Linked DNA regions of Homo sapiens. The protein of the gene in region 1 interacts with the protein of each later gene in a pairwise test. Each region holds a gene or a part of one and is shown in the gene's direction. Other genes may lie near its edges. The genes, in order: TTC3, SPARCL1, RAI14, THOP1, CKAP5, USP28 and WHAMM.

Region 1 (3,978 bases):
AGGCTTATGCAGACCACTGTTCTTATTGGGGAAAGAATGAGGCAGTTGTACTAGGCATCTGTTAACAATAGCAATTATTAAAGTATGGTAGAAATAAATTCTCACATTTTGTACATTTTCACATAATTAATTAACAATATAATGATATGAGTAAATAACTGTCACCTTTGAGTCACTTCTGCTATGTCTTTGTCTTACCTAAATTGAGTTTCTCTAGTGATATACCCTCTTTTAGTGGTCTTAACTATTCCCATCATTTTAAATACACTCTGTAAATTAGTCAGCTTTCCCTAGGATATGCTGAAGTGATGCAACCCAAATATCTTGTGGCATACATCAGAGAAGTTTGTTTTTTGCTTACATGACTTGTCCTGCAGTTCTGCAGTTGTTGGCTGGGACTGGGCTGTAGCAGCTTTATTTTGTGTGGCTCTATTCCTTGTTTCTCAATCTAAGTTGAAGAATGACCCTTTTCTGGAACATCTTCCTGTGTCAGAGGAAAAAGAACAATGTCCAGTCTATGAAGTGTTTGTTAAACCTTTTGTCTAGACATGTGTATGTCATGTCTGGTCACTTTGCATTGATGAAAACAAGTCACATGGTCAGACCCACACCTGAAAGTATATTTTTCCTACACGGAAGCCTTAAAATTCGCATGGCAGTGAGTAAGGATTTTCACCACTTGCCTGAAGATGGTTTTAGTCCGTATTTTGACTGTTCCTAGTGGTAAAAATAGTATACGTGTATAGATTTATCCCCCCTAGACATAACATTTTTCTTGTTTTTTTTTTTTTTAATCAAATAGGATTTTCTACAAGGAATATGTCTTACCCCTGACTGTGAAGGTGTCATTTCTAAGATTATCATCTTCAGCAGTGGTGGTGAAGTTAAATGTGAAGTAAGTAATAAAGGGGAAACCTTGTTAGATAGATAACCAAAATGTTTACACCTTTTGAAACATGATTTGAATTTGTAGATATCATGTAATTTGGATCTTTTCCAGGAAAGAAACAATTACTTCATTTAAGAAAATATAGGAAATACTGGGATGTGAGAATGCTTCATTGTAATGAAAGCATTCTTATATTCTTTTATTTCTTAATAGGAAAAGGAGGCTTTTTATATCTTAGTTTTACTATTTTTACTGTTTTTGATAACTTCATTTTCTTAATCCCGGTAAACTTTTGGGCAGTAGTGGGTGTGCAGGTTTTTAGGGAGGGGGAAGAGCGTCTTGAGGGATTACCTTTAACTTCATGACATGGGAATGGCAAGAGTGGGTAGTTGTAATAATATTTACACTTTATTAGATCGTCTGCTTACTCTTAATTTTTTAAAAACTTTTTCCTCAAGTGTGTCTACCCTCTTGTTCCTCTTCAGTAAATTATTTTGCTAAAGCTTTCTGGGCTTTTGTCTGGGTCAGAACATCATCACTGTTCTCTATCAAACTGAACATTATGTGTGCTTCTGAAATACTTGTTACTTGTGGTTTTGTGTTTTATGTCATGGGAGTATGAGACAAATTTTGGATGTCTTTGTTTTATTTAAAGTTTGAACACAAGGTCATAAAAGAAAAGGTTCCTCCAAGACCTATTCTGAAACAGAAATGTTCTAGGTAAGATTTTTAACAATCAATCAGTGGTTTGATGATGTCTCTTAGAATATAATTCTATTAAATGCAGATTTCTAAATTATGCCTTTTTAAAAATTGGCTGTGTATACATATATTCAAATAAGTGTTTTTTAAAATGATTTTTATGGAAAATTAAAACTTAAAGAGAACTAGCCTAGAATGATTAAATACTAAAAACTTGATTCAGAATTATTTATCTAGTGGTTGAATTTACAATTAAAATTATAACATTTGATGCTGTGAAATTACATGTTTGATTAATAGATTTGGCATTTATATAAAAACTATACAGTTTGCTCTCAGTTGTTGAAACTTTAATTCCAAAAGCATATTTTTCTTTTTATCTCTCTTCAGTAAACATTTTGAACCTATGACTATTTTTTACCCTGAAATACTCAATGTACTGTCTAAATTATTACTTCTCTATAGCTTTTTGTTTAGATCAAATAATTCAGATTCTTTTTTCTTTTCTTTTTGGTCCTGCTTCTTGTTTTTCTTTCTAAGAAGTGATTTTTTTTTATCATTTGTGACCAAGAAAAAGCAAAAGAAAAGATGAACAGAATTATTTGTTGGAGAGAATTCATTGTAACCAGATCAACCAAATTATAGTGTTGTGGGTTATTATTGAGATGTGAAAATTATATTTTACTATGGGACCTTTCTTAGAAATGAGAGTTTACATGAATTATTTTGCAGAGTAATTTGTACTATTTCTGTTTACCCTATGAAGTAACTTAGATACATGAAAGTGACATCTATACAATCTGTAGACTGCATCCTTAGACATCACCTAATCATTGAGGTTTTTGTTTTCATGAAACAAGTACCCTTATTTTGACAATACTGACAGTTTCTTACATTGAATGGAAGATGTAGGCCGGGCTCTGATTAAAAAAGGAAAACTTCTAATATATTGCTTGGAAGATGGTTTCTACGATAGTCAAAGGAAAACAGTTCATTGAGTTGTCACTAATTGTAAATGTTTATCAGCCTAGAGAAACTAAGACTGAAAGAAGACAAAAAATTGAAGAGAAAGATCCAAAAAAAAGAAGCAAAAAAGTTAGCACAAGAAAGAATGGAGGAGGACTTAAGAGAAAGTAATCCACCCAAAAATGAAGAGCAGAAAGGTATGCAGAAGCCAAAGGCATGATAAGAATAATATACTCTCATTTAAATGTATAAATGTAAGCATCTTTTGGGCCTTATATTCATCATTATTGAATTGAAATAAAGATTTCACTTAGTAATTTAATACTATCACTGTCTTCTGTTACTCGAAGACAGAATTGGGTTGGTGTAAAGAACACTGAAAAACCTTTCAGAGATTGTATTCCCACTGAAAAACCTTTCAGAGATTGTATTTTAACTTTCTGTGCTTAATGACTAAACATATTTATTGTATATAAAGTTAAGGTAGTTGATGAGGCTGGGTTAGGATTGTTGAAGGAAGTGGCCGTATTTTAGGGGAACTAAGTTGTTTTTTTTTTTTGTTTTTTTTTTTTGAGACGGAGTCTCACTCTGTTGCCCAGGCTGGAGTGCAGTGGCGCGATCTCGGCTCACTGCAAGCTCCGCCTCCCGGGTTCACGCCATTCTCCTGCCTCAGCCTCCCCAGTAGCTGGAACTACAGGTGCCCGCCACCATGCCCAGCTAATTTTTTGTATTTTTAGTAGAGATGGGGTTTCACCGTGTTAGCCAGGATGGTCTCGATCTCCTGATCCACCCTCCTCGGCCTCCCAAAGTGCTGGGATTACAGGCATGAGCCACCACGCCTGGCCTAGAGGAACTAAGTTTCAAATGCTACTACATGAATGGTTCAGAATGAAGGGTGTAAAATGCTTACTTTTGGTATGTTTATTTTAGCGTACACTTTCATGTCTTTTCAAAAGTATTGTTAAGTGTTTATATTTCTAATTAAAGTTTCTTGAGTTTAGTAAAACAGTATAATCAATCTGAATCATATTTTATATTATGTAATTTTGTTATTTCTAAGTTTATGTAATTGTGAATTAGTCCTATTTATCACTTTAACCATTGTTATTTATCCTTAGAAACTGTAGACAATGTTCAGCGTTGTCAGTTCCTTGATGACAGAATTCTACAGTGTATAAAGCAGTATGCTGACAAGATTAAATCCGGCATACAGAATACAGCCATGCTTCTCAAAGAATTGCTTTCTTGGAAAGTTTTGAGCACAGAAGACTATACAACCTGTTTTTCTAGCAGAAATTTTCTAAATGAAGCAGTGGACTATGTTATTCGCCACTTGATTCAAGAAAATAACAGAGTAAAGACAAGAATATTTCTGCATGTTTTGAGTGAGCTTAAAGAAGTGGAGCCCAAATTAGCCGCCT
Region 2 (3,978 bases), on another chromosome or scaffold:
GAGTGGACAGAGCATGGGCTTCAGAGTCCAATGCATCTGGGCTAGAATCCTGACTCTGCTTCTTACAATCAGTGTAAGCTTTGGCAGTTACTTCCCACCTGCATGACTCAGTTTACTCATCTGTTTAGCAAAATGGGGATAATAATACACACAAATGAGGTCGTTGTAGGAATGAAATGTGATGTTTATTAAATGCCAAGTATAGCACCTGGCAGAGAAGTAAACACATAGGAAAGTTGACTGGTTGCTCATAAGGAATCTCGTATATCAGTGAGGCCTCTGTTACATACTTGCAATGATTTCTCTGGTAGTAACAATGGAGATCAAGAAGGAAATATTCTTTGAATTGCCTTTTTTATCCAAAGAAATGTAAAAGTAAATCGGACACTACTATTTTCCCCTGGTGGGGGGCCTCAACACGAGGTATTTATTACTATGAGACTTCACTGCTGCATCAGTTAGTAGCTTCTTAATGGCCAAGTCAAAGGAAACCAAAGAAAGTGTTCTATGCCAGCTTGCCATTACACAGAGTGAGAAGAAATGCTGCTTTGCTGTCAATTCTGTTTTATTGGCCCACTTGGACAAGAGGGAAAGCCCCCAACATTTCTTCTTTCTTATCTCTTCTAAAGGCAAGAATAGGGCTTTTGACTTGCTCCAGGGGATATTTTTTCCTCTCTAACTGAAATTCAAGTGAAAGAGTCTTTTTTTTGTTTTTTTGTCTTTGTTTGGTGTTTTTGTAAACCTCTCCCCTATGTTCCTAGCATTGAAATGTAAGCTGCTTTTTCTGGCTGCATGTAGCAGGAGCAGGCTGTCGTCATAGCAATGAAAGGGTGTAGAGAGACTCCTGCTTCATGACCTGCTCTGGGAAATAACTCTTAGTCTGCTTTAAAATCCTTCTTTAGAAATGAAGTCTCCAGTCCTGGCTTGTTTCCTTCCTATTACACAACCAACTTATGTACACCCATTGCAGTAGCTAAATGTTTCCTTTAAAGATTTAGTGAATAGGTATTTTAAAAATCAACAAGAGAGCTGCTAAAACAGTGGCTAGTTTACTGTGGCATACAGGGGAAAAACAACTGGGAAGGCAAAGAAAGAGAAATAGAAATGGCCTCACATGATACACATACTGCAGCAAACCCTGCAATAAATCCATTTTTCAAGTTCCCACTGCTTCCTCCCATCTTCACGATGTGCTATGGTGTAGTGGTTATAGAGGGGAATTCTGGGGCAGACTGCCTGGACTTGAATCCTGGCACTCATACCTTCTAGTTGTTTTAATCTAATCCATTCTGTGCCTCTGTCTTCTCATCTGTGAAATAGATATAATAACAGTCATAAAATTGTCATGGGAATTGAATGAGATTGAGCATGTAAGGCATTTATTACAGTATCTAACCCATGGTAAAGGTTGGCTGCTAAGCTCAGGAGCCTCAGTTTCCCCCACTTGTGAAATGTGGATAACAGCTAATTCATAAGATCATTGTATTTTTTTTTTTTTTGAGACAGAGTCTTGCTCTATTGCCCAGGCTAGAGTGCAGTGACATGACCTCAGCTCACTGCAACCTCCACCACCTGAGTTCAAGTGATTCTTGTGCCTCAGCCTCCTGAGTAGCTGGGACTACAGGCATGTACTACCATGCCTGGCTGATTTTTGTTGTTTTAGTAGAGATGGGGTTTTGTCATGTTGGCCAGGCTGGTCTCAAACTCCAGGCCTCAAGTGATCTGCTTGCCTCAGGCTCCCAAGGTGCTGGGATTACAGGTGTGAGCCACCATGCCAAGATGATCATTGTATGATTAACTAAAATAATGAATGTACATGCTCAATAAGTAGTAGTTATTACAATTCTTTTTCATGGTTTTGTTATTGAAACAGCAAGGTTCCAGTCTAGGTCCTGCTGCTCACTTCGTAGAAAGCCAATCACTGAGACAACAAGTATTGCCAATGAAGAAGGCTTTAATCAGGTGCTGCAGCTGAGGAGATGGGAGCACAGTCTCAAATCCATCTCACTAACTGACTTAAACTAGGGGTTTACATAGCAAGGGAAAAATGTAACAATGTGTAAGAAAATAAGAACTAGGTAGGGGTAAGGAAACAATCATGGTGAATAAGCGGTCAGGCATCTGCTGCAGTGATCTGGTGAGTTTCCATTCTTTTATACTTTTTTAGAAGCCTGAAGGTCCTGTCCTGAGGAAGGAACTTAGATAAAACAAATATAAGTTTCACACTTTAAGACCAGGAGGGTCAACTTCTATGTTTTTCAAAAAGATCTGTCTGTGGGACTATTGGGTAAGTTTCAGTTTGATCTAACTCTGACATGAATGGCCTTTTTGAACTTAGAATTCCCAGTGAGTCAAATATAATGAATAGAGGCCTCAGAATTATCATTGCATAAATGTGAACCATTTGATTTCTACAGGGGGAAAAAAAAGAATTGTGACTTTTTACATTTATAAAGACTCATCTCATCTTGATTAACACCAGGGTAAAAAGTATTAAAACATCTTATCTTTCATTAACTTTTTATTACGTTTCTGTTTCAGTTCCTCCAGTGTTTTCTAGGTCATGCAATTATGAAAATAAGTTAGCATTTTTATCTTACATCTCAAACAACTAATGTATTCAGTGTTCTATCCCATGCAAAATTCCAGAAATGCAGCAAGGAGCAAAACTAGAGAGGGGCTGAGCTCTTGTGGTGCTTACTATGTAGTTATGAAAATGGTCATTAATCAAACCATCACAATAATGAAAACTGCATAGGACCAAACATAAGGTGCCCCCAAATACAATGCCATCTTCATCTTTCTAGTGAGAACATCCTCAACCAAAGTGTTTGGCCAAACAGCATGTACAAATGGGTAATATATTGTAATGTACACTTGGGATATTTAATCTATGGTTCACATACATATTTAATATGTTACTTTAATTTAAATATTTTATACTTATTAACATGACTTTTTCCTTTCTCACATTTCATGAAACAATTTTGTTAAAACTCTTCATACGCATCTTTAACACCAATGTGTATGTTCACTGGATCCACGCTGTAATTATCTAATACAGAGCACATCATCAATCCTTCTGCAAGTTGCTAAACATCTGCTGATGCTGCAAATTTAATCCCCAGGCATTAGTCCTCACTCGTGGTCATGTTCTCCACACTTTCATTACTGACTAGATTGTTTTTCCAGTGCTTTTTAAAGGGCGTATTTAAAAACCACTTGAAACTGTAAGTGTGGCTTTCTAAAACTATGTGATTCCAACTTGCAATAATGAAGTCATACCTCAGGAATAATGACTAAACCTGCTTTAAATATCTTTATCTATTTTTTCATCCATTTTGTCAAGGTGACCTTCCTAAGAATAAAAATAAGCATTGCTTGAGATTTTTTTTTTTTTTGAGACAGAGTCTCATTCTGTCACCCAGGCTGGAGTGCAGTGGTGTGACCTTGGGTCCCTGCAACCTCTACCTCCTGGGCTGGAGCAATTCTTCTGCCTCAGCCTCCTGAGTGGCTAGGATTACAGGTGTGCACCACCACGCCTGGCTAATTTTTTGTACTTTTAGTAGAGACAGGGTTTTGCCATGTTGGCTAGGCTGGTCTTGAACTCCTGACCTCAGGTGATCACCCACCTCGGCCTCCCAGAGTGCTGGGATTACAGGCATGAGCCACTGTGCCCAGCTCTTGAGATGATTTCTAATTGTTTTTTTGAATAGTACTTTGCTGCTCAAAATGAAGAAACTTTGGAAGCACTTGAATATAAGTCAAATCCCTCTTTTTTACGGCAGGATTTGGTGGCGTGAGAAAAAACACATTTTATTTGAACACATGCCATATATAATGATACACTGAAATAAGTGTTATGAAGGCAAAACACCTTTGTTCCAAGAGAGTATATAAGGATCCTGACCTCCACTCAGGATCAATAATGGCTTTCCTTGATCTGAAGTCTGAATAGAGGTTAACTCTGTGTGTGTG
Region 3 (3,978 bases), on another chromosome or scaffold:
AGCTGCACTTTTTTTTTTTTTTCTAAACTGGGAAGAAGGTTAATTAGCTTCTAAAACATTAGTAAAACATTTTGCAGCATATATTTCCTATATAGGTATATTTATTTCTACGGCTATACATGTTTTCTACCATCAATGTAATTACAAATAAAGCTTAATTTCTTGATTTTTAAAAATAAGTCTAAATAGAAATTTTACTACTTTCTTTCTGCACTTGGATAACTTCTACGTAGAATCTCCCAACTTTGAAGACCATTACTAGGCTATTTTAACTTCACCAGGCTACTTTGAGAATAAATTTATATACCTATCACATGGTTCTGTCATGGGGTTATATTTCATGTTGCAGCATGAGAACTGACATGCATACACTTATATTTGATGGAGATGCTGTGAAGTGACTAGATAGAATCTGTAAATAAATTCATATTCCTTGAAGTTCAGTACTTCCTAAGCAGAAAGTAGTATAACTTCACAGAGATAGTGCCCAGAAATCTATCTGAAATTCTTTATGACAATACTCAATCTTTAAGTAGCACTTGTATTTTTAAATAGTTGGATATATTGTAACATCTTTTCCCTTTGCCTATTGAATGCTTCTACCTTAAAACTCACTGTCGATGGATTTATAGGGTATATTCCAGAAAAAAAACAAAATAACAACTTCTCTTTATGGTTTGTGTCAGACCTAAGATTACAAAAAATACTTATGTATATTCTTCTAGTATTTTTCATCATTTGTTTTATATTGTAATGTTTAAATGCTTAATCCACCTGACATAGTTTGTATATGAGTTGGAGACCTAGATTTCCTTTTTCCCAAAGGGGTTGCAATTGTCATGACATAATTATTCTTTCTATCCATTTCTTTATCTAGTCATGTGTTAGTAACAGACATAGGCTCTTAATTTATGTTATATTTTGATACATAGCAAGATTACTAAAGGGTACACTTTCGGTAAAAGTGGAATGGCAGGATATATAATGATTAGTGCACTGGGAATAAGCTGCCTACAGGGCAGTGGGATCTTCTGGTGTCGTGCGGAGACACGCCCTTCCTTTCTCCAGCACCGTCCCTCAGTATACCCGGTACACTTGCCTTGAGCCTTTACACACTTTGTGTTCTGTCCTCTCTCACAGTCACCCAAACAGTGATAGCCAAGGGCATAAGCAGCCGCAAGAAGCTGGAGCTCCTATGTAAAAGCTAGCATTCAGTAAAATTCCATAACAAGAGTTGTGCCAACATACAATCGTGACTCTATAGGGGTACAGAATATCAGGTTGGACCAGATACTAGATCAGCAGTCAGCAGTCCAAGTCAGGAGAAAAATGTGCAAAAAACAGGGGCTGACTTTTGCAATTCTGGCATTTTGTGCCTGAGGTAAAATCTAAATCTGAATTTGTCTCCTAGGATGGGAATATACCGCTGCTTCTTGCTGTACAAAATGGTCACAGTGAGATCTGTCACTTTCTCCTGGATCATGGAGCAGATGTCAATTCCAGGAACAAAAGTGGAAGGTACTCCAGAATTAGGCAGAAATCATGTGACTTCAGTGATACCCACATTCTGAGAGTATTTCAAAATATCACAGCTATATTTTGGATCATTTGTTATAAGGGATTTTTAACTTCTTACCTTTTTAAAGTTCTACTGTTTCTGATAATCAAGAATCTATGTTGACTTTAAAGCAATTTTCCCCAGACATCTGTGGACATCATTGCTGGCTAAGTCTGTGAGGAGACTATTAAATGCTAATGTGAATAAACAATTTCCTGTGACTTTCTATGCAAAATAAAACAAACCTATTGGTTGTTTTGGAGAAATGGTCTTAGAAATATATATGTTATTTAAAATGCTTGAGGTAAAACAAGGATAAGATTCATGCCAGTCATATTAAATCCCATCATATTATGCCAAATAGTATAGAAGATTGTGTTGTTTGACAAAATGTGGTTTAATGTTTTGATTTAATCTGAAGTTTAAAAAAAAAAAAAACCACCTAATTTCATCTTGATTGCATTCCACTTCGAATTCCCTGAAGATTAAGTGTAATAAAGGTTTAACTGCACTTAATCTTCTTTTCTCTTTTTTTAAGACAACTGATTTCCCAAGAAAGACTTTTTACATTCTCTTAGTACTAATTTTGTGTCTCTTTTTTCCTTTAGAACTGCTCTCATGCTGGCCTGTGAGATTGGCAGCTCTAACGCTGTGGAAGCCTTAATTAAAAAGGGTGCAGACCTAAACCTTGTAGATTCTCTTGGATACAATGCCTTACATTATTCCAAACTCTCAGAAAATGCAGGAATTCAAAGCCTTCTATTATCAAAAATCTCTCAGGATGCTGGTATGTAAAAGAAAATAGCCAATGTTGTTTTAAGTTTATCCACTCCATTTTCCCCAAAGGATAAAGGAATGTGTGCAATATGATATATTTTATTATTCTTTTAAACATATTCTTGAAAAAAAAAGGAGTGTTAAAAAATATTGTATATGGTGTATGTGTGTGTATCCCCCCACCCAAAGTGAATATGAATCATTATGCTTCTTATAGTTCTTTTTTTCACTTTTTCCTCTATAGATTTAAAGACCCCAACAAAACCAAAGCAGGTATTTATCTTTGGGGGAGGCTTCTATGTTTCATTTATGCTTGTGGGAATTTAAAAATGTTCAGATTTAACCACTCTGGTCCACTAGTAAAGTAATAAAGACTATATTGAAAATACTTAGGGACTGAAATATCTTTGAATAAATAAGTCATTGTTATAAGGTGTTAAAGGTTGCCAGGCCGGGCCGGTGGCTCACGCCTGTAATCCCAGCACTTTGGGAGGCCGAGGCTGGTGGATCACCTGAGGTCGGGAGTTCAAGACCACCCTGACCAACATGGAGAAACCCCGCCTCTACTAATATTACAATATTAGCCGGGCATGGTGGTGCGTGCCTGTAATCCCAGCTGCTCGGGAGGCTGAGGCAGGAGAATCACTTGAACCCAGGAGGCAGAGGTTGCGGTGAGCTGAGATTGCACGATTGCACTCCATCCTGGGCAACAAGAGTGAAACTCCGTCTCAAAAAAAAAAGGTGGTAAAGCTTTCCTTAATAATTTGCTTTATTTCAAAAGCATGTAACTTTAAACTTGCTACTTATATGTTCATCTTTTTCTGAAATGTACTAACTCATACTTCCTATTGGTGTGAAAATGTTTGATGTGGCTTAAACTCTGTGACTGAATAACACTGTTTTAAATACTTGTAATATCACATGAGCTACAGAGCTTCAGCCAGAAAATGTTAGCTATTTAATGAAAATAAGAGAATTTAGCCTTTTCTTTTAATTAGGGTTTTTCTAGAACGTCATGTGGTGTTACACAAAGTAGAAATTGAGTTTGCCCTGTTATTGTGTAGTTTTTTCTAAAAATATATTGTCACTATCTGTTTTTTTGATGAACAGTATATGTTTGGTTGTTTATTTATTTACACATCTACGTTCTTGAAGAAATCATAAACAGCAAATACTCAATACTAAATTTATGTGCTAACTGTATTACTTACCAGTAACCTTCAAAAATGAAGTTATCCCTTTCCCTCATATTTATAGTCTTTAAAAAAAGGAATGGAAGTAATGCAGACGTGTGGGAAATACCATTGCTTTTCATTAATACAGAAAGCTGGCTGTGATTGTATTCTGGATTCTAAGTTGTAGTAGACCTCAACCTCTACTTTCCCAGTTCTCCACACCAACCTAATCTGGTTTTGTCTCATGTGTTTTTATTTTCTTGCTATTAAAGCATGGGCTGCTAGGAGAATACTTGTGCATGCATATTATTTATTTTTATGTTGGTAGCAGATTTCAGATTTTGATAAAGTAAGAAATGTATGAACTTTTGAGGTTTTTCTCATGTGTTTGATAAAGCTACTTGCCCAGACTTTACTAACCAAACTAACCCACCTCCATTCTTTGGACTGTGATAACTTTCAGCATGA
Region 4 (3,880 bases), on another chromosome or scaffold:
AGAAAAGGACGCTTGCTCATAAAATGAGCCGAAGTGAGAAGACAGAGTGCGGCCCTTCTGAGGACCGTCTGCTCAGGGGCGCCGCAGTGCTGGCCTCTGGGGTTTTTGTGGATCTTAGTAGGCGAGTTTGAAAACACGGAGTCCAGGAATGAGGATCGACCGTGTGTCCACCTTTCCTGGCTTCCCTGCCACACTGTTTGCACAGCACTCGTAGCCAGCACACGCGTGTGCACATCCACACAGGTGCTCACACAGGTGCCCACGCACGTGCCTGCAGGCCTGCTTTGCATGCTGCTTTCTGCGTGTCCCTGGCGCCTGGCACGGCGAGTCCCTTGGTGCATTCCGTCGGGACAAGGAGTGTGGCTGCGTGGTCCTTGGAACAGAAAAGCCTCGGTGTTGCAGAGAGGACCTTGAGGATCACCCAGGAGTTCCCTCGCCGTTGGCTGCCTGCCATGGTTCCAGCGGGACTCAGTCAAGGGCTGTGCTTTTAGGGAAGGTTCCACACACACACGAGCAGGGAGATGCAGCATGCCTCACAGCGTCCCCACCCGGACCTGGCCGTCCCCAGGTCCCAACCCCTCGGGGTGCGGAGCTTTCAGGGAGCAGCAGCTCTGTGGCTAGAGGAGAAGCGTGGGTGGCCTCCAGGGACGGGGTCATGTGGCCGGCATCTTCAGGTGTGTCCTGCTGCCACCGGCAGCCAGCAGCAGCCCAGGGGCCTCCGGGTCCCGGTCGTTTTCCAGTTTTGGGGTGGGAGGGCCGGGCCCAGCGCATCACCTGTGCACTCGCCCTGTTTGCACTGTGGCAGCTGACACGGGCCAGGCCGGCGGGAACGGGCTAGGCAGGACCTGGGCACTCTGAGGCTCTGCCCCATCCCTGCAGGCGGAGTTCGCCATGTTCAGCGGGACCCACGTGGAGCGGGACTTTGTGGAGGCGCCGTCGCAGATGCTGGAGAACTGGGTGTGGGAGCAGGAGCCGCTGCTGCGGATGTCGCGGCACTACCGCACAGGCAGCGCCGTGCCCCGGGAGCTCCTGGAGAAGCTCATTGAGTCCCGGCAGGCCAACACAGGTGCACCCGCCCCGTCCGGGGAAGGGTGCTAACCTCGGGGGGCGGCACACAGCTGGGGCCTGGCATGTGCCCCGGGTGGGGGTCGGAGCTCTGGGCAGAGTGGGCCGGGGCAGGTGCAGAGGCCAGCTCTCTCCTTCCCTCCCGCCCAGGCCTCTTCAACCTGCGCCAGATCGTCCTCGCCAAGGTGGACCAGGCCCTGCACACGCAGACGGACGCAGACCCCGCCGAGGAGTATGCGCGGCTCTGCCAGGAGATCCTCGGGGTCCCGGCCACGCCAGGTAGCCACCCTTGAGCCGGGCACACCCTGGAATTTGGAGCCTCAGCTGCTTCCCTGGGAAGGTGAAGGGAGTTGGTCCCCATGCTTCACTTAGCAAGTGCAGGAGTCCCTGCTGGGGAGCCACGGAGCGCGTCCCAGGCTCCTCGGGGGACAGCCCCAGCTGAGATGCAGCTGCAGGCCCAGGGTCGGGGACGGGTGTGCGGCCCCAGCCCCCAGGAGGAGTGTGTTCCCTGGAGCCTCTGCTTTGAATGAAGCTGGCGTTTTCCTGATTGAAATGTATGACACATGCTTTGTAAAAAGCCTGGAGAAGTACAGGAAGGCCTAGGAATTTCCGATCCTAATGATGAGAAGTGGGCCCTGTTTCCATGCTCACCTGTTGTCCTGTGTGCATGTGTGTTCACACACGCTTGCGAGGATCCAGAATTTGGAAATACAGCATGATTTTAACATGGGTGGTGTTTTGCTGGCTTAACACTCCATAGACTTCAAAAATCTTTCCAAAAGCGTTTTCAGCAGCGTGGCCTGTGATGTTGCGTGGGCGTGCCTTGCTTTATTGACGCAGTCTCAAAATGGGGACTTTGCTCTGTGGCAGCTGACAGCCCCGTTAAATGAGCTCCTGTCCTTCCAGGAGAGGGGGCGGAGACTTGTGGCCCTCGCTTTGTGGCTGACTCTGGTTCTAGAAGTATCCAGCTGGTCTCGGCCCTCACCGTGATCCTCCAGCTTCTCCCTGTTCCGGGCAGGGGTCTCAGGAGTCTGGCTGGTTGTCTTCTCCTGGAGGAGGAGCATGGGGTGGGGGCTACAGCGTGAACCCTGCCATGTGTCCGCCCCAGGAACCAACATGCCTGCAACCTTCGGCCATCTGGCAGGTGGCTACGACGCCCAGTACTACGGGTACCTGTGGAGCGAGGTGTATTCCATGGACATGTTCCACACGCGCTTCAAGCAGGAGGGTGTCCTGAACAGCAAGGTACGCGGGGACTGGGGACAGGGAGGGCGTCCTGAACGGCAAGGTACGCGGGGACTGGGGACAGGGAGGGCGTCCTGAATGGCAAGGTACGCGGGGACTGGGGACAGGGAGGGCGTCCTGAACGGCAAGGTACGCGGGGACTGGGGACAGGGAGGGCGTCCTCAACAGCAGGGTGGGGCCGAGAAAAGCACACCTTTGGCCTGGGCCTGGGTGTGCCGGGTGAGCCATCCCGGCCGAGGCACCTGCTGGTCTTGGTGCGGTGCTGCCCACAGCTCCTCCCTGGGCCCTGCAGGAAGCTCCACACTGGCCCCTCAGGCCTCGGGCTGTGAGTGCTGGGAGCTCCGTGTCTTCCCATACGAGTCCTTCCGGGATCTGCGTGATCGGCCTCAGAGCCATGGGCTGAGACAGACCCTTCTCTGGAGAAGGCTTGGCGTTTGCCATTCATTTGCTCCTCCAACCTCCAGTTTCCTCACTATGAAGTGCGGCCGTTACGCCATGTGAGCCTGTGCCTCCCGCTGACTTGGTGTGACCCAGGCTCGGGACAGCCGCCAGAGTCCCTCACAAGGAACAGGTGGCTACCAGCTTTGAGGGCCGGCCCTGCCCTGCCTGGGTGCAACATTGCACTGGGCAGCCTGCAGGTACCTCGGAGCCACCAAGCAGGCACTCAGCTGCTCCCTTTATAGAGGTGCAGAGGCCAGGACCTGGGGGAGCAATGGTCCGACAAGCCCCCTGTCTTCACAGCCCAGCAGGGACCTCCCCCCTCCTGAGGCAGCCTCCAGCAGCTCCCCCTGCTGCTGAGGTGAGGGGGTCCCACCTCTGAGGACCGGCCGGGGGCTGTAGAGGTGGAGTCCCCCGGGTGGGAGCTGGGACTGTGGCTCCCTGGCTCTGCAGCCTGCAGTCCGCGCAGGCTCCTGCGGGGCTCTGGGGCGTCGGGGTCTCCTTGGTGGCTGGCACCGGCGCCTCGCAGTCTCATCTGCCTCACCTGCCCGTAGTCCCGCAGTCACAGGGCTGGGCTCAAACCTGGGCCTTTAGGGCGGCCCAGAGCGCGAGCGGCTTCCACATTGTCCAGCCGGAGGCTCAGCCACTTCTGTTCATGGGCTCAGCCTGGGATTTCAGTGGGGGCTGATGGCGGGAGCCACCTCGGGAGTTTGGGGAGTTCGGGGCTCTGCTGGCCCCTCAGTGCACACCCCCGCTCTGAGATTCTGATGAAAGGCACCTGCGCTCTCCCACCTGTGCTGATGCAGGCGGCCCCCGGGCCTCCCTGGGAACCTGGAAGGGGTTGCTCCGAGGCCCCCCTGGGCGAGGGTGTGCAGACTCCTGGGGTCCTCTGCCTTCCTCCCTGGGTCCCCACCCGGCCACAGTGCCCTGTCTCCTCGGCAGGTTGGCATGGATTACAGAAGCTGCATCCTGAGACCCGGCGGTTCCGAGGATGCCAGCGCCATGCTGAGGCGCTTCCTGGGCCGTGACCCCAAGCAGGACGCCTTCCTCCTGAGCAAGGGGCTGCAGGTCGGGGGCTGCGAGCCCGAGCCGCAGGTCTGCTGAGGCCTGGCACTGCGACTGCCCAGTCTGG
Region 5 (3,978 bases), on another chromosome or scaffold:
AAATTCAAAGAGAAGAAACCTCAAGTGGTACAAGCCCTGCAGGAGGCAATTGATGCAATCTTCCTTACTGTAAGTTGACAGCATGAGTTTGTAGTTTTATCTGAAGTAAAGTTTGTAAATATAATATTTTGATTGTTCTTTACAATTGAAAAAAGCTCATTAACCACATTTTCTTTCTAAAGACCACACTACAGAACATCAGTGAGGATGTTTTAGCAGTAATGGATAATAAAAATCCAACCATCAAGCAGCAGACATCTCTTTTTATTGCAAGAAGTTTCCGCCACTGCACTGCTTCTACCCTGCCAAAGAGCTTGCTAAAGCCCTTTTGTGCTGCACTACTTAAGGTACAGACTCTCTTTGAAGTTGGGGGAATATTTTATACCTAGGCAAGATTCTTTTCCTGCAAATTATGTACAGTGACTACTTGACTTTCAGACTATAGAGGTTATGATCTTTTGAGGAGCAGAGCCTTTGCAGCTTGGAAACTGAATCCAAATTCTCCTGTGTTCCTCTTCTTGAAAGAAAGCACAAGTTAGTGTTATGATTCCATTAACTGTTAAACATGTTGTTTCTTACTTGTCCCATATACTGGTGTTCAGCTGAATCTGGCCAAGCATAGGCATCAAATGTGGAGTATTTGAAGATCATTTGGGAGTGAGTTATTTTAGATAGAGGGTAAGAGGAAAAGGAAATACTTATTTGCTAAATGGATTACCAAGGGTTTCCTTAACCCGAAAAATTTTTGTTTTTTTTTTTTTGTTGTTGTTGTTTTTGTTTTGTTTGAGATGGAGTTTAGCTCTGTTGCCCAGGCTGGAGTGCAGTGACACAATCTTGGCTCACTGCAGCCTCTGCCTCCTAGGCTCAAGCAATTCTCCTGCCTCAGCCTCCTGAGTAGCTGGGATTATAGGCATGTGCCACCACGCCCGGCTAGTTTTTGTATTTTAGTAGAGATGGGGTTTCACCATGTTTGCCAGACTGGTCTCGAACTTGGCCTCCCAAAGTGCTGGGATTACAGGCATGAACCACTGTGCCTGGCCCAAAAAGAATTTTTGAAAGAGTAACTGTCAATTGGCACAAGGAAAGCTATACTTAGTTCCAGTAAATTGTAAAAAGCAAATTCTTTATCTAGCAACCATCAGTCTGAATTAAAATGAGTAATGCCTAAAATACCTTGCATTAATATCATTTTGCTTACTTCTGGACTATAGCACATCAATGATTCTGCTCCTGAAGTCAGAGATGCCGCATTTGAAGCATTGGGTACTGCTTTGAAGGTGGTTGGCGAGAAAGCAGTAAACCCATTCCTAGCTGATGTGGACAAACTCAAGCTTGATAAGGTAGGTTAGTAATGGATTGGACTGAAATTGGACAACATTCCTGTCTCTTTGCATCATGGCTTTGTCTCTTGACAGTTATAGAGTACTGGTAGTTTTGATGAGGAGTTCTTGATTTTTTTTAAATTGCCATTTATAGTAGGAAAGAAATGCATAATTGAAACAAGTTTTGGAGGATGCTCTCTGGTACTTTTTGTCTTCAATTTTGTCTGTTGTTTTATTAAGAAAAAAATGCTGATATCACCTCAGGAAATTTATTTCATCCTCCACTGATAGTTCAGACCGAGTTTGAAAACTTAGCTTTTGAGAATTTAAGTTTCATTCCAGGCTATGATGGTGATAATTGTAGAAATAGCTTTCAAATTATAACCGAAAAAAAGCTGAGTGACCAATCTGTAGAGAAGGTGAAAACAGTTCTGTGAGATAAATTTATTTCTAAGGTCCAGAAAATTACCTTCTTATATGTGAATGTCTTCCATAAACAATGTGGTCATTTTAAGTTTATTACAATTCTAATTTGTAAAGAAATAAAATGTAAGATTAATATCTTACGTATGTCTATCTACTGCCAAAAAAGTGTAGATAATTTATCTTTTTTGTTGAAAGGGAAATTTTTTCTCTGAAAATTTTTTTTTTTTTTTTTTTTTTTTGGCAATGAATCTCACTCTGTCACCCAGGCTGGAGTGCAGTGGCACAATCTCAGCTTACTGCAACCTCTGCCTTCTGAGTTCAAATGATTTTCGTGCCTCAGCCTCCCAAGTAGCTGGGATTACAGGCGCCTGCCACCACGCCCGGCTAAACTTTTTTATTTTTAGTAGAGATGGGGTTTCACCATGTTGGCCAGGCTGGTCTCAAACCTCTGACCTCAAGTGATCCACCCATCTCGGCCTTCCAAAGTGCTAGGATTATAGGTGTGAGCCACCTTGCCTGGCCATTTCTCTGAATTCTTATGTGTAGTTGTGGTTTAGAAATGTAATAACGTAGTGGTTGTGTTTCAAAGTTGGGCTTAATGATGTTCATCTCACTTTCATTCTCCAGATCAAAGAATGTTCAGAAAAGGTAGAACTGATACATGGTAAGAAAGCTGGACTAGCTGCTGATAAGAAGGAATTCAAACCTCTGCCTGGAAGGACTGCTGCTTCAGGGGCTGCAGGAGATAAGGACACAAAGGACATTTCTGCACCCAAACCAGGACCTCTAAAAAAGGCACCTGCTGCTAAGGTTAATAGATTATTTAAAAATAGAAGTTAGTAAGGAAGGGTCTGAGTCTCAGGTTCGTGGTTGTTCCTCTAAAATTATTTTGTTTGAGAAATGAATTCATTGGCCACATTAAAAATACAGCAGAAAATCTGTTAATGAAGATAGGATATTCCAGCAATAAATTCAGCTGTTTGGAGCTTTAATAGAGATAAAAATGGTGATGAAGGCACAGAAGTGTGTTTTGTCAATTTAACATAAAATTTACTATCTTAACTTTTTTTTTTTTTGAGATGGAGTCTCGCTCTGTTGCCCAGGCTGGAGTGCAGTGATGCAATCTTGGCTCACTGCAACCTCCGCCTCCCAGGTTCAAGTGATCCTCCTGCCTTAGCCCCCCAGTAGCTGGAATTACAGGCACGTGCCACCATGCCAGGCTAATTTTTGTATTTTTAGTAGAGATGGGAATTTGCCATGTTGGCCAGGTTGGTCTTGAACTCCTGACCTCAGGTGATCCACCCGCCTTGACCTCCCAAAGTGCTGAGATTACAGGCGTGAGCCACCGTGCCTGGTCTGTCTTAACTTTTTAATGTGCAGTTCATTAATATTAAGTATGTTTATAATGTTGTGCAGCATCACCACAATCCATTGCCGTAATGCTTTTCATGTTTTAACACTGAAACTCTATGAATCAATTAACTATCCTCCCATTCTCAGCTTCTTCCAGCCCCTTCTTTCTGTTTCTATGAATTTGACTACTTTGTTTTTATTTTCTATATTTTTTAGAGACAAGGTCTTGCTCTGTTGTCCAAGCTGGAGGGCAGTGGTGCGATTATAGCTCACTGCAACCTGGAACTCCCAGGCTCAAGTGATCCTCCTCACTCAGCCTCCCAAGTAGCTAGGATGACAGGGACTTGCCACCATACCCAGCTTATTTTTAAAAATTTTTTATAGAGGGCCTCGCTGTGTTGCCCAAGCTAGTCTTGAACTCCTGGCCTCAAGTGATCCTCCTGCCTTGGCCTCCCAAAGTGCTGAGGTTACAGGCATGAGCCACCAAGCCTGGCCTTGAGCATCTTTTCATGTGCAGGTGGCAATCTGTAGTTGTATAGTTCTTCTTGGAAAAAAATATCTACTCAAGTTCTTTGCCCATTTTTGAATTGGGTTGTTTTGAGGCAAGGTCTCACTCTGTTCCCCAGGCTGGAGTGCAATGGCACAATCACAGCATACCTCCCAGGCTCAAGCAATCCTCCCACCTCAGCCTTTTGAGTAGCTGGGACCAGAAGCACGTGCCACCACACACAGCTGATTTTTTATTTTTTAATATTTTTGTAGAGACGGGTTTCACTGTGTTGCCCAGGCAGGTCTCAAACTCCTAGGCTCAATGAATCCTCCTGCCTCCGCCTCCCAAATTCCTGGGATCACAAACCTGAGCCACTGCCCCCAGGCT
Region 6 (3,978 bases), on another chromosome or scaffold:
ACTTCGATAGCAGCAAAATTTACTGTTATTACAGGAGAAACAACTTGAAGTCAGTTTGGTTCTTATAAACCTGTCATTCTTGGCAGCTGTACTGAGGGTTCACATCACACATTCTTTATGTCAGCTGAAGCCTTATAAAAACCTGCCAGTTTCAGTGAAAATTTAATGCCCTTTTTGCTTTCTCTTGATTTATTGACCTTTCGTTTCCTTTTGTCTCATTAACTGATTTTTAAAACATCAGTAAGTCAGTGATTGGTTCCACAACTCTCATGCCCCTCTGCCCCCAAATGCAAACAGTATTTTTTTTTTTTTTTGAGACGGAGTCTCGCTCTGTTGCCCAGGCTGAAGTGCAGTGGCGCGATCTCTGCTCACTGCAAGCTCCGCCCCCCGGGTTCATGCCATTCTCCAGCCTCAGCCTCCTGAGTAGCTGGGACTACAGGTGCCCACCACCACGCCCGGCTGATGTTTCTGTATTTTTAGTAGAGACGGGGTTTCACAGTGTTCGCCAGGATGGTCTCGATCTCCTGACCTCATGATCCGCCCGCCTCGGTCTGCAAACAGTATTTTTAAGACTTACTGGCAAATAGCATCTTACCAGGCGAGATCTCTCCATGTGTTCTGTTTCATCAAAGAAATTAAATCAATAGTAAAATGAAGCAAGTACTTAACAAGGAAAATAATGCTGGTAATAGTAATAGCTAATGCTAATTGAGCATGCACTATGTGCCAGACTCGGTGCTCAGAACTTAACATAGCATTCTCTCAGTACTTACACAACTCCATGAAGTTTCTATGAGAAGGCTTATACTTGTTAAGTAATTCGTCCAAGGTCACCCAGTGAGGATATGGTACAGTTGGAATTGTATCTAGGCAGTTCTGACCCCAAGAGCCCAAGGCGCCCCTGGTCCTATCTCATAGTTGATGGGCCCATTGCCCTGGATCACAGACTTTCCACTACTCTTATAATGCCTTTTCTAGAACTCTCCTAATGTTTTAAACTTCCAGTCCTCCCTACAGTCTTTCTAAATAGATAATCTTCTTTTCTACTTGACTGAGCTCGCTGATGTCTAAAAAGAGCTCCCTGCCTTCTGTTTTGTCCCCCTCTCCCTACGCCATCTCATCTCTTTTCTCTTATTTCAGTGGAAAAGGTTCCCTTCCTTTTTCCCCCTTTCATTTCTTAGAGATAAACCTAGATTAATGGTTTTTACTAGGGAGAGATTTTGTAATCTAGGAAGCATTTGGCAATGTCTGGAGACTTTGATTGTGACTCTGGAGGGAGGATGCTACTGGAATGTAGTGCGTAGAAGCCGGGAATGCTGCTAAACATCCTGCAGTGTACAGGAGTAAGCCCCTCTAAACAGAGTTATGTGTAAATTGTATAAAATAGTGCTGAGCTTGACAAACTCTGATCTAGATGATGTCTCTCTTCTCTTTCTATTATGTCCCTTCTCCTTAGTCCTAGTCTAACCCCCAGACACCTTCACTGTCTTCTCCCTTGCTACTCACATTATGGTCCACAGACCAGCAGCATTCACATCCCCTAGGATTTAGACATGCAGAAAGTTGAGTGTGCTAGAGCCAGCTTGCTCTGCCTCTCCAGCTGATTTTGTACATCTCTTTCCAGCTCTGTGTTCAATGACCTCGTGTTGATAACTGTGCCAAGGTGGGAATATTTATACCAAGGAAACAAGCATACACTGCCAATCAGCATACCACTGCCTGTACCCCCACTCTAGACCTATTCAATCAGTTTCTGCCTTTTGACAAGATTCTTGGGTGATTCATTTGCATATTACATTTTGAATTTGCATTTTCCATTTTACCGTGCACTTGTCCTCTATCTTGAAACCAAATAACAACAACAAAAGTGTCTATTGCCCAGTCCAGCTGTTGTCTCCACCTTCCTCCTCTTGTTTGCTTTTGGAACAAAGTTTCTAACCCCACCTGTTTCATTTCTAAAACATTTTTCCAGTGACAATGTATTCAGACTCAATATACAAAACTTGGAAAAGACAGACTTGAGCAAGACTAACTCTTAGCTGACAGGAGATTGAGGAAGGTTGGTTCCCAGATTCTGCTACAGAGCTTAAGGTGGCAATAACAGCTTCTGCAAAAGCCAAATAATGAGATGGCCGTGTGGACCAGTCTGGGCTCCAGCAAATGGCTGATTGTTCAGAGGCCTGCAGAGGGACTGACTAGGCAGCAGCAGGTTAGGTTGAAAGGCAGTGAGTGGTTTTATGTAATCAGAATCTGCTCAGCAGCCTACTTTGCCAAGGCAGGATCTCTCCCTCTGTCACCCAGACTGGGGTGCAGCGATGTGATTATAGCTCACTTTGGCCTTGACCTCCTAGGCTCAAGCGATCCTCCCACCTCAGCCTCCTGAGTAGCTGGGACCACAGGCGTGCATCACCGCACTTGGCTGTTTTTTTAATTTTTTATAGAGACGAGGTCTTGCTATGTTGCCCAGGCTGGTCTTGAACTCCTGGGCTCAAGCAGTCCTCCTGCCTTGGCCTCCCAAAGTGTTGGGATTACAGGCATGAGCCACCACACCTGGCCCCCTCATACTTTTATTATTTTATGCTTTTATGATCCCTCATTACCACTTTTTTGCTGTTACTTTTTTCTTGTTTTGTTTTTTGAGACGGAGTTTCGCTCTTGTTGCCCAGGGTGGAGTGCATTGGCACGATCTTGGCTCACTGCATCCTCCGCCTCCTGGGTTCAAGTGATTCTCCTGCCTCAGCCTCCCGAGTGGCTGGGATTACAGGCATGCACCACCATGCCCAGCTAATTTTGTATTTTTAGTAGAGACAGGGTTTCTCCATGTTTGTCAGGTTGGTCTTGAACTCCTGACCCCAGGTGATCTGCCCACCTCAGCCTCCCAAAGTGCTGGGATTACAGGCGTGAACACCTGGCTCCAAATCTACATTTCTAATCCTGAGTTGCAAATGACTTCTATACTCTGTTTCCCAGTGCTTTTTGAACAGGTCTGCTTGAATATCAACCTCCTTGGCTATAAACGTTTGCTTCATACTTATTTTCCCAGGGTTGTTATACTAGGCATGGGAATGTACACTTGTATTACTCGTGTCTGCCATATGCTATGTACCACCCTAAGCACTTTTCCATACATTTTTATTTACAAAAACCCAGCAAGGTGTGAACTATTACCCTATTACTGATGAGGAAACTGAGATGTCTTGTTTGTTTTTTGAGATAGGGTTTCACTCTGTCACCCAAGCTGGAGTGTGGTGACACCGTCAAGGCTCACTGCAGCCTTGACCACCCAGACCCAAGCAATCCTCAGACACTTGAGTAGCTGGGACCACAGGTATGCACCACCACACCTGGCTACTTTTGTTTTATTTTATTTTTTGAGACGGACCGCAGTCTGTTGCCCAGGATGGAGTACAGTGGCGTGAGATCAGCTCACTGTAACCCCCGCCTTCCGGGTTCTATTGATTCTTCTGCCTCTGCCTCCCAAGTAGCTGGGATTACAGGCACATGCCACCACGCCTAATTTTTGTATTTTTAGTAGAGACGGGGTTTCACCATGTTGGCCAGGCTGGTCTTGAACACCTGACCTCCGGTGATCCGTCTGCCTTGGCCTCCCAAAGTGCTGGGATTATAGGCGTGAGCCACCGAACCCAGCCTGTGGTTAATTTTAAAAGTTTTTTTAGCAATGGGGTCTCTCTGTGTTGCCCAGGCTGGTCTCAAACTTATGAACCAAGTCATCCTGCCTCAGCCTCCAAAAGTGCTGGGATTACAGGCATGAGCCACCGTGCCTGACCTCAGATGTTAGTATGCCTTATAAGGGCCTCATATGAGATTTATTTTATTTATTCCTTTTCTTTCTTTTGTCTTTTTTTTTTTTTTTTGAGACATGGTCTTACTCTGTCACCTAGGCTGGAGTAGTGCAGTGGCTCTATCATGGCTCACTGCAGCCTCAACCTCCTGGGCCCAAGCAATTCTCCTACCTCA
Region 7 (4,599 bases), on another chromosome or scaffold:
ACCACCACGCCCGGCTAACTTTTCTTTTTCTCTCTCTTTTTTTTTTTTTTTTTGGTATTTTTAGTAGAGACGGGGTTTGGCCATTTTGGCCAGGCTGGTCTCGAACTCCTGACTTCAACTGATCCGCCCACCTCGGCCTCCAAAAGTGCTGGGATTACAGGTGTTAGTCACTGCACCCAGCCACCCACGACAATTTTATAATTAGAAAGATTGACAGTTTCCGCTTGAAAAACCAAATAGATAAGAAAACTAACAGAAATAACACAGTATAAAGCAGATAGTAAAAAGATATAATGTGAGGAATATACAAGAAAGATATTTAAAACAGACTGTTAAAAATCATAAGTAACTCATATTAGTTAAAATAGTATATTAAAATAGGGGAAAATCAATCACTTCAGCTAAAAGTTTATCTCTCCAAGAAGACTGAGTGACTGAGTCCCAGGGCCCAATCCCCAACCCTCACACCGGCAGCAGGCATAAAAGGGGAGGGACCTTCAGACAAAGGCACCTTTCCATCTTCAAGTTGCATTCCACAGAGGTTCCTAGATTTCTTGAGGTCATTTTCAAGGCAGAGAGATGCCCTAACTAGAGCTTTAGCTTCGCCCTGATTTTTTCGTTTGCTTATTGTTTACCCTTGGGGATAACAGCAAGTACAAAATCTGATTCCAACTTTTCCCAGCTCAAAACCTTCACAAACACTTTCACTTGTTCCCGAATCAACACCTCACAGGCCTTGCTTTGGCAAACGGCTCCTGATCCCAGCTTCCTGGCATCTCCCTCCTTTCCTCCTCCCATTCCCACCACCTGTCTCAGTGCACTCCCAGGATGGGAGCTGACATGGACTGTATTTCTCAGTCTACACTGCACATTTCCTAGGCAGAGACTAGGGCCGTCTTGGTGCTTGTTGCATGAACAGATTTAGCTCCACCCTGACACGTAAACTGGATTTCCTGATATCTCCTTAAACAGGCCTTCCGTAGCCAGGGGGGCATGTCGAGCCCGAGTGTCGGTGTATCTTAAGTTTGTCTGGGCCTCCGTTTCCTTAACTCTAAAGTGAAGAGTTAGAACACAGATTGTATTTAAACACCCTGGTTGGGAGCTGCAGTGCCCTGAATTCCCCCTCTTACTCCACCCCCTCAATACTGACACACAGCCGACACTCAATAAAAGTTTGTTGAATTGACAAAAATAAATTTGCGGCTTCTTGCCCAGTACTTGGCACTTAGAGGCCCTCAATAAATGACTATCGAGTTTATATTTCATCTCCCCAACGCATTTGTGACATTCTTAAGGGCGTGAACCATGTACTCAATAGGGCCCTGATGATAGAAAAGAAAATCAGCTTGGTCCCTGTTCTCAAGTTCATAGTTTAGTGTGGGAGACTAATACAATAACTCGCCGATTCAACAGATATTTTTCCAACGTCCGTATGTATTGGGTGGAAAAGGTGAGGCAAGAGTTGTATTTCCCAGACTCCTGAACAGGTTGCGAGATGATTGACTCCTGAGGGAGACCTTCTCACCTTTTCATTGGTTGTCGCTGGCCCTCTCGTCTATCACCCAACCAACCCCGAATGCCTCTTGTAAGCCCCACCTCCGGCAGCCAGCCAATCAGAAGTGCCGGGGGCCAGGGTGCTGCTGGGGCACTGACGCGGTTTCGATTCTAGCGAAAAATGATTTGGCTCGGACTGTCCCGTGACAGGCGGTGCGAGGAGGCCAGGCCCGCGCCCGCCGAGCCCTAGGGCCGCTGCTGCCGACAGCCATGGAGGACGAGCAGCCTGACAGCCTGGAGGGCTGGGTGCCGGTCCGGGAGGGCCTCTTCGCCGAGCCCGAGAGGCACCGGCTGCGCTTCCTGGTGGCCTGGAACGGCGCGGAGGGCAAGTTCGCTGTGACTTGTCACGACCGTACCGCGCAGCAGCGGCGGCTGCGCGAGGGGGCCCGGTTGGGGCCCGAGCCCGAGCCCAAGCCTGAGGCCGCCGTCTCCCCGTCCAGCTGGGCCGGCCTGCTCTCGGCCGCGGGGCTCCGCGGCGCGCACCGGCAGTTGGCGGCGCTGTGGCCGCCTCTGGAGCGCTGCTTCCCGCGGCTGCCGCCGGAGCTGGACGTGGGCGGCGGCGGGGCCTGGGGTCTGGGGCTCGGGCTGTGGGCGCTGCTGTGGCCGACGCGCGCGGGTCCCGGCGAGGCGGCGCTGCAGGAGCTGTGCGGGCAGCTGGAACGCTATCTGGGCGCGGCGGCCGACGGCTGCGGCGGCGCCACAGTGCGCGACGCACTCTTCCCGGCTGAGGGCGGCGCGGCCGACTGCGAAAGCCCGCGCGAGTTCCGGGAGCGGGCCTTGCGCGCGCGGTGGGTCGAGGCGGACGCGCGGCTGCGCCAGGTAAGCGAGGCCCGGTCGCCGGCGTTCGTCCGCGCTTCCATGGCCTGGGACACTGTGGGAGGCTCCCCCGGCGCCGAGAGCCCTGGCTGACGGCTGACGGGGAGGAGCCGGCGGGCGGAGAAGGCCGCGGGCTCCCCAGTGCCGTCACCTGCGCGGGACCGCTGCGGGAAACCGGCGGGAGCTGCGGGAGGGTCTGCAGAGAGGACAAGCGAAGTTAGAGCCTAGTGTACTTGCAGCTGGGAGCTGGGCTAGGCCCCCAACTTTTGCCCTGAAGATGCTGGCAGAGCAGGATGTTGTAACAGGAAATGCCAGAAATATTGCAAGCAAGACTGAAAACAACCCATCCATGTAGGAAAGAATAACACGGACTAAATGTAAGCAATTCCTGTGTATGAGGGGACGTCGCAAATGGGATAAAATGGTTTAGAGGAAGAAATGGCTTTTAGGAGATAGGGTGTTTTGTTTTAAGTAATATATACTTGGTCAAATGGAAAGCCGGCAGAAGGTGAACTTTATTCATCAGTTTGGAATGACCGCATTAGTGCCCTTTTAAGCTTGAAAGAGGTAGTTTGAGAGAGAGTAATTATTTGAGTGGTAAACTTACTGAACCTAAGGGGAGGGGAAGTACAAGTTCACAGAAGGGTTTAGGAGAAAATATGCCTTCTAAGTCCACACCCACAGTTTATTAAGGAGAGCCAGGCTGGAGTCTCGGCTCACTGCTGTTATTAACCTGAATGATTTTTTTCTGTGCATTCTTCTGAGGAAGGGGAAGTGAAGAGAAGAATTCAGCCTAAGCTAAATGTAGAATAAGCTTTCCAAATTAAAATGGTTTTATAAAAGGAGCTCGTTAGTGGGGTCATTTTTGTACTGTGGGTTTTATGTGTAAATATCTACACACCCACTTCTCGTGTTGATTTCACTTTAGAATATGAGGAAACCACAGGGGAGTTTCAGGCCAGTCAGCGTTTGATCTTCAACTTTATCGTCTTCACCTTAGGATATGAGGAACCCACAGGGGAGTTTCAAAAATGATATCATTTTGTATCAGACTTGTTTTTTACACACTCGGTTTCTCACAGAGATAGGTGGTTTCTCCTTAAAATCGAACATGTTTATGATGTATTTTACTGTAGTAAATACTATCAGAAAAGTTATAGTTTTCCCAAATTTAAGTTCACTCTGGGGTACTATAGCATGAATGTAGTTCATACTGTTGAGCTAGCCGTTCACGTTAGTGTAGTTCACATATTTATCTGGAACTTAAAAATGAGGGGTTGGGAGAGGAAGCTTAAATTCAAAACGTGTTCAAATATATAATTTTAATATTTAGAATGGAAAAGCAATTGATTCTAGAATTAGACCAATTGCTAGTATTGCTAGGATATATAAAATGAAGCTGAATGTTTTAACTCTGGAATTTTTCTGAATAGTTTAAGAAATAAGGCTGAAATGTATCACTTGCCTTAAGTTTACTTTTGCGTGTGTGTTTTGATTTTGTTCAGTGAGGCTTTCACTTAAAAAAAAAACCCATAATATTATTACCTGGATAAAAAACTATAGCTGAAAGTAGATCACTTTATCCTTAAGCAGAAGGATGGAAATAGGAGAATTTAAGAATGTATTGGTTGAAAAAAATCTATATTATTTGATTTTATTTCTCTTCTTCTGGGAGTAAAATAATTTCCTGCCAAGTGAGTCCACCTAGATTATACACTGTTCAGTTTATTTTCTGCCCTGCAGCAGAAGCAGTAACCAGCAGAGACTGGAACCACAGTTGAGGCTCTGTAAATGAGGTGACTGCTAAGGGCTTCATGGGAATATTAATCTGGGGCATTAAGAGAATCAACATGCTGAAGTACTTGGAGACAGCTCTGTAATGTTTTATGAGGTCTTTTTTTAAAATTTTTTTCGAGATGGAGTCTTGGCACTGTCGCCCAGGCTGGAGTGCAGTGGCGCCATCTTGGCTTACTGCAACCTCCGCCTCCCGGGTTCATGCTATTCTCCTGCCTCAGCCTCTCCAGTAGCTGGGACTGCAGGCGCCCGCCACCACGCCCGGCTAATCTTTTGTATTTTTAGTACAGACAGGGTTTCACCGTGTTAGCCAGGATGGTCTCGATCTCCTGACCTCGTGATCCGCCCACCTCAGCCTCCCAAAGTGCTGGGATTACAGGCGTGAGCCACCACGCCTGGCCCTTACGAGCTTTAAAAAGGAATACAGCCTCACAA

Evidence for each region.
Region 2: the proteins of TTC3 (region 1) and SPARCL1 interact in a two-hybrid assay, tested with the Homo sapiens proteins (one large-scale study listed by BioGRID and IntAct).
Region 3: the proteins of TTC3 (region 1) and RAI14 interact in a two-hybrid assay, tested with the Homo sapiens proteins (one large-scale study listed by BioGRID and IntAct).
Region 4: the proteins of TTC3 (region 1) and THOP1 interact in a two-hybrid assay, tested with the Homo sapiens proteins (one large-scale study listed by BioGRID and IntAct).
Region 5: the proteins of TTC3 (region 1) and CKAP5 interact in a two-hybrid assay, tested with the Homo sapiens proteins (one large-scale study listed by BioGRID and IntAct).
Region 6: the proteins of TTC3 (region 1) and USP28 interact in a two-hybrid assay, tested with the Homo sapiens proteins (one large-scale study listed by BioGRID and IntAct).
Region 7: the proteins of TTC3 (region 1) and WHAMM interact in a two-hybrid assay, tested with the Homo sapiens proteins (one large-scale study listed by BioGRID and IntAct).

Annotation. Positions count from the first base shown.
Region 1 is NC_000021.9:37,149,276-37,153,253, forward strand, and holds part of TTC3 (E3 ubiquitin-protein ligase TTC3), read left to right. Parts: intron 1-802; coding exon 803-895; intron 896-1,544; coding exon 1,545-1,609; intron 1,610-2,617; coding exon 2,618-2,754; intron 2,755-3,675; coding exon 3,676-3,978. UniProt on the Homo sapiens protein: E3 ubiquitin-protein ligase which catalyzes the formation of 'Lys-48'-polyubiquitin chains. Mediates the ubiquitination and subsequent degradation of phosphorylated Akt (AKT1, AKT2 and AKT3) in the nucleus.
Region 2 is NC_000004.12:87,522,684-87,526,661, reverse strand, and holds part of SPARCL1 (SPARC-like protein 1 isoform 1 precursor), read left to right. Parts: intron 1-166; exon of another isoform or gene 167-1,309; intron 1,310-3,978.
Region 3 is NC_000005.10:34,809,601-34,813,578, forward strand, and holds part of RAI14 (ankycorbin), read left to right. Parts: intron 1-1,411; coding exon 1,412-1,518; intron 1,519-2,166; coding exon 2,167-2,345; intron 2,346-2,579; coding exon 2,580-2,608; intron 2,609-3,973; coding exon 3,974-3,978. UniProt on the Homo sapiens protein: Plays a role in actin regulation at the ectoplasmic specialization, a type of cell junction specific to testis. Important for establishment of sperm polarity and normal spermatid adhesion.
Region 4 is NC_000019.10:2,809,425-2,813,304, forward strand, and holds part of THOP1 (thimet oligopeptidase), read left to right. Parts: intron 1-879; coding exon 880-1,066; intron 1,067-1,215; coding exon 1,216-1,344; intron 1,345-2,173; coding exon 2,174-2,310; intron 2,311-3,690; coding exon 3,691-3,852; 3' UTR 3,853-3,880. UniProt on the Homo sapiens protein: Involved in the metabolism of neuropeptides under 20 amino acid residues long. Involved in cytoplasmic peptide degradation. Able to degrade the amyloid-beta precursor protein and generate amyloidogenic fragments.
Region 5 is NC_000011.10:46,794,174-46,798,151, reverse strand, and holds part of CKAP5 (cytoskeleton-associated protein 5), read left to right. Parts: coding exon 1-69; intron 70-182; coding exon 183-347; intron 348-1,211; coding exon 1,212-1,340; intron 1,341-2,375; coding exon 2,376-2,558; intron 2,559-3,978. UniProt on the Homo sapiens protein: Binds to the plus end of microtubules and regulates microtubule dynamics and microtubule organization. Acts as a processive microtubule polymerase. Promotes cytoplasmic microtubule nucleation and elongation. Plays a major role in organizing spindle poles.
Region 6 is NC_000011.10:113,868,823-113,872,800, reverse strand, and holds part of USP28 (ubiquitin carboxyl-terminal hydrolase 28), read left to right. Parts: intron 1-3,978. UniProt on the Homo sapiens protein: Deubiquitinase involved in DNA damage response checkpoint and MYC proto-oncogene stability. Involved in DNA damage induced apoptosis by specifically deubiquitinating proteins of the DNA damage pathway such as CLSPN.
Region 7 is NC_000015.10:82,807,963-82,812,561, forward strand, and holds the start of WHAMM (WASP homolog-associated protein with actin, membranes and microtubules), read left to right. Parts: upstream 1-1,665; 5' UTR 1,666-1,764; coding exon 1,765-2,373; intron 2,374-2,498; exon of another isoform or gene 2,499-2,747; intron 2,748-4,599. UniProt on the Homo sapiens protein: Acts as a nucleation-promoting factor (NPF) that stimulates Arp2/3-mediated actin polymerization both at the Golgi apparatus and along tubular membranes. Its activity in membrane tubulation requires F-actin and interaction with microtubules.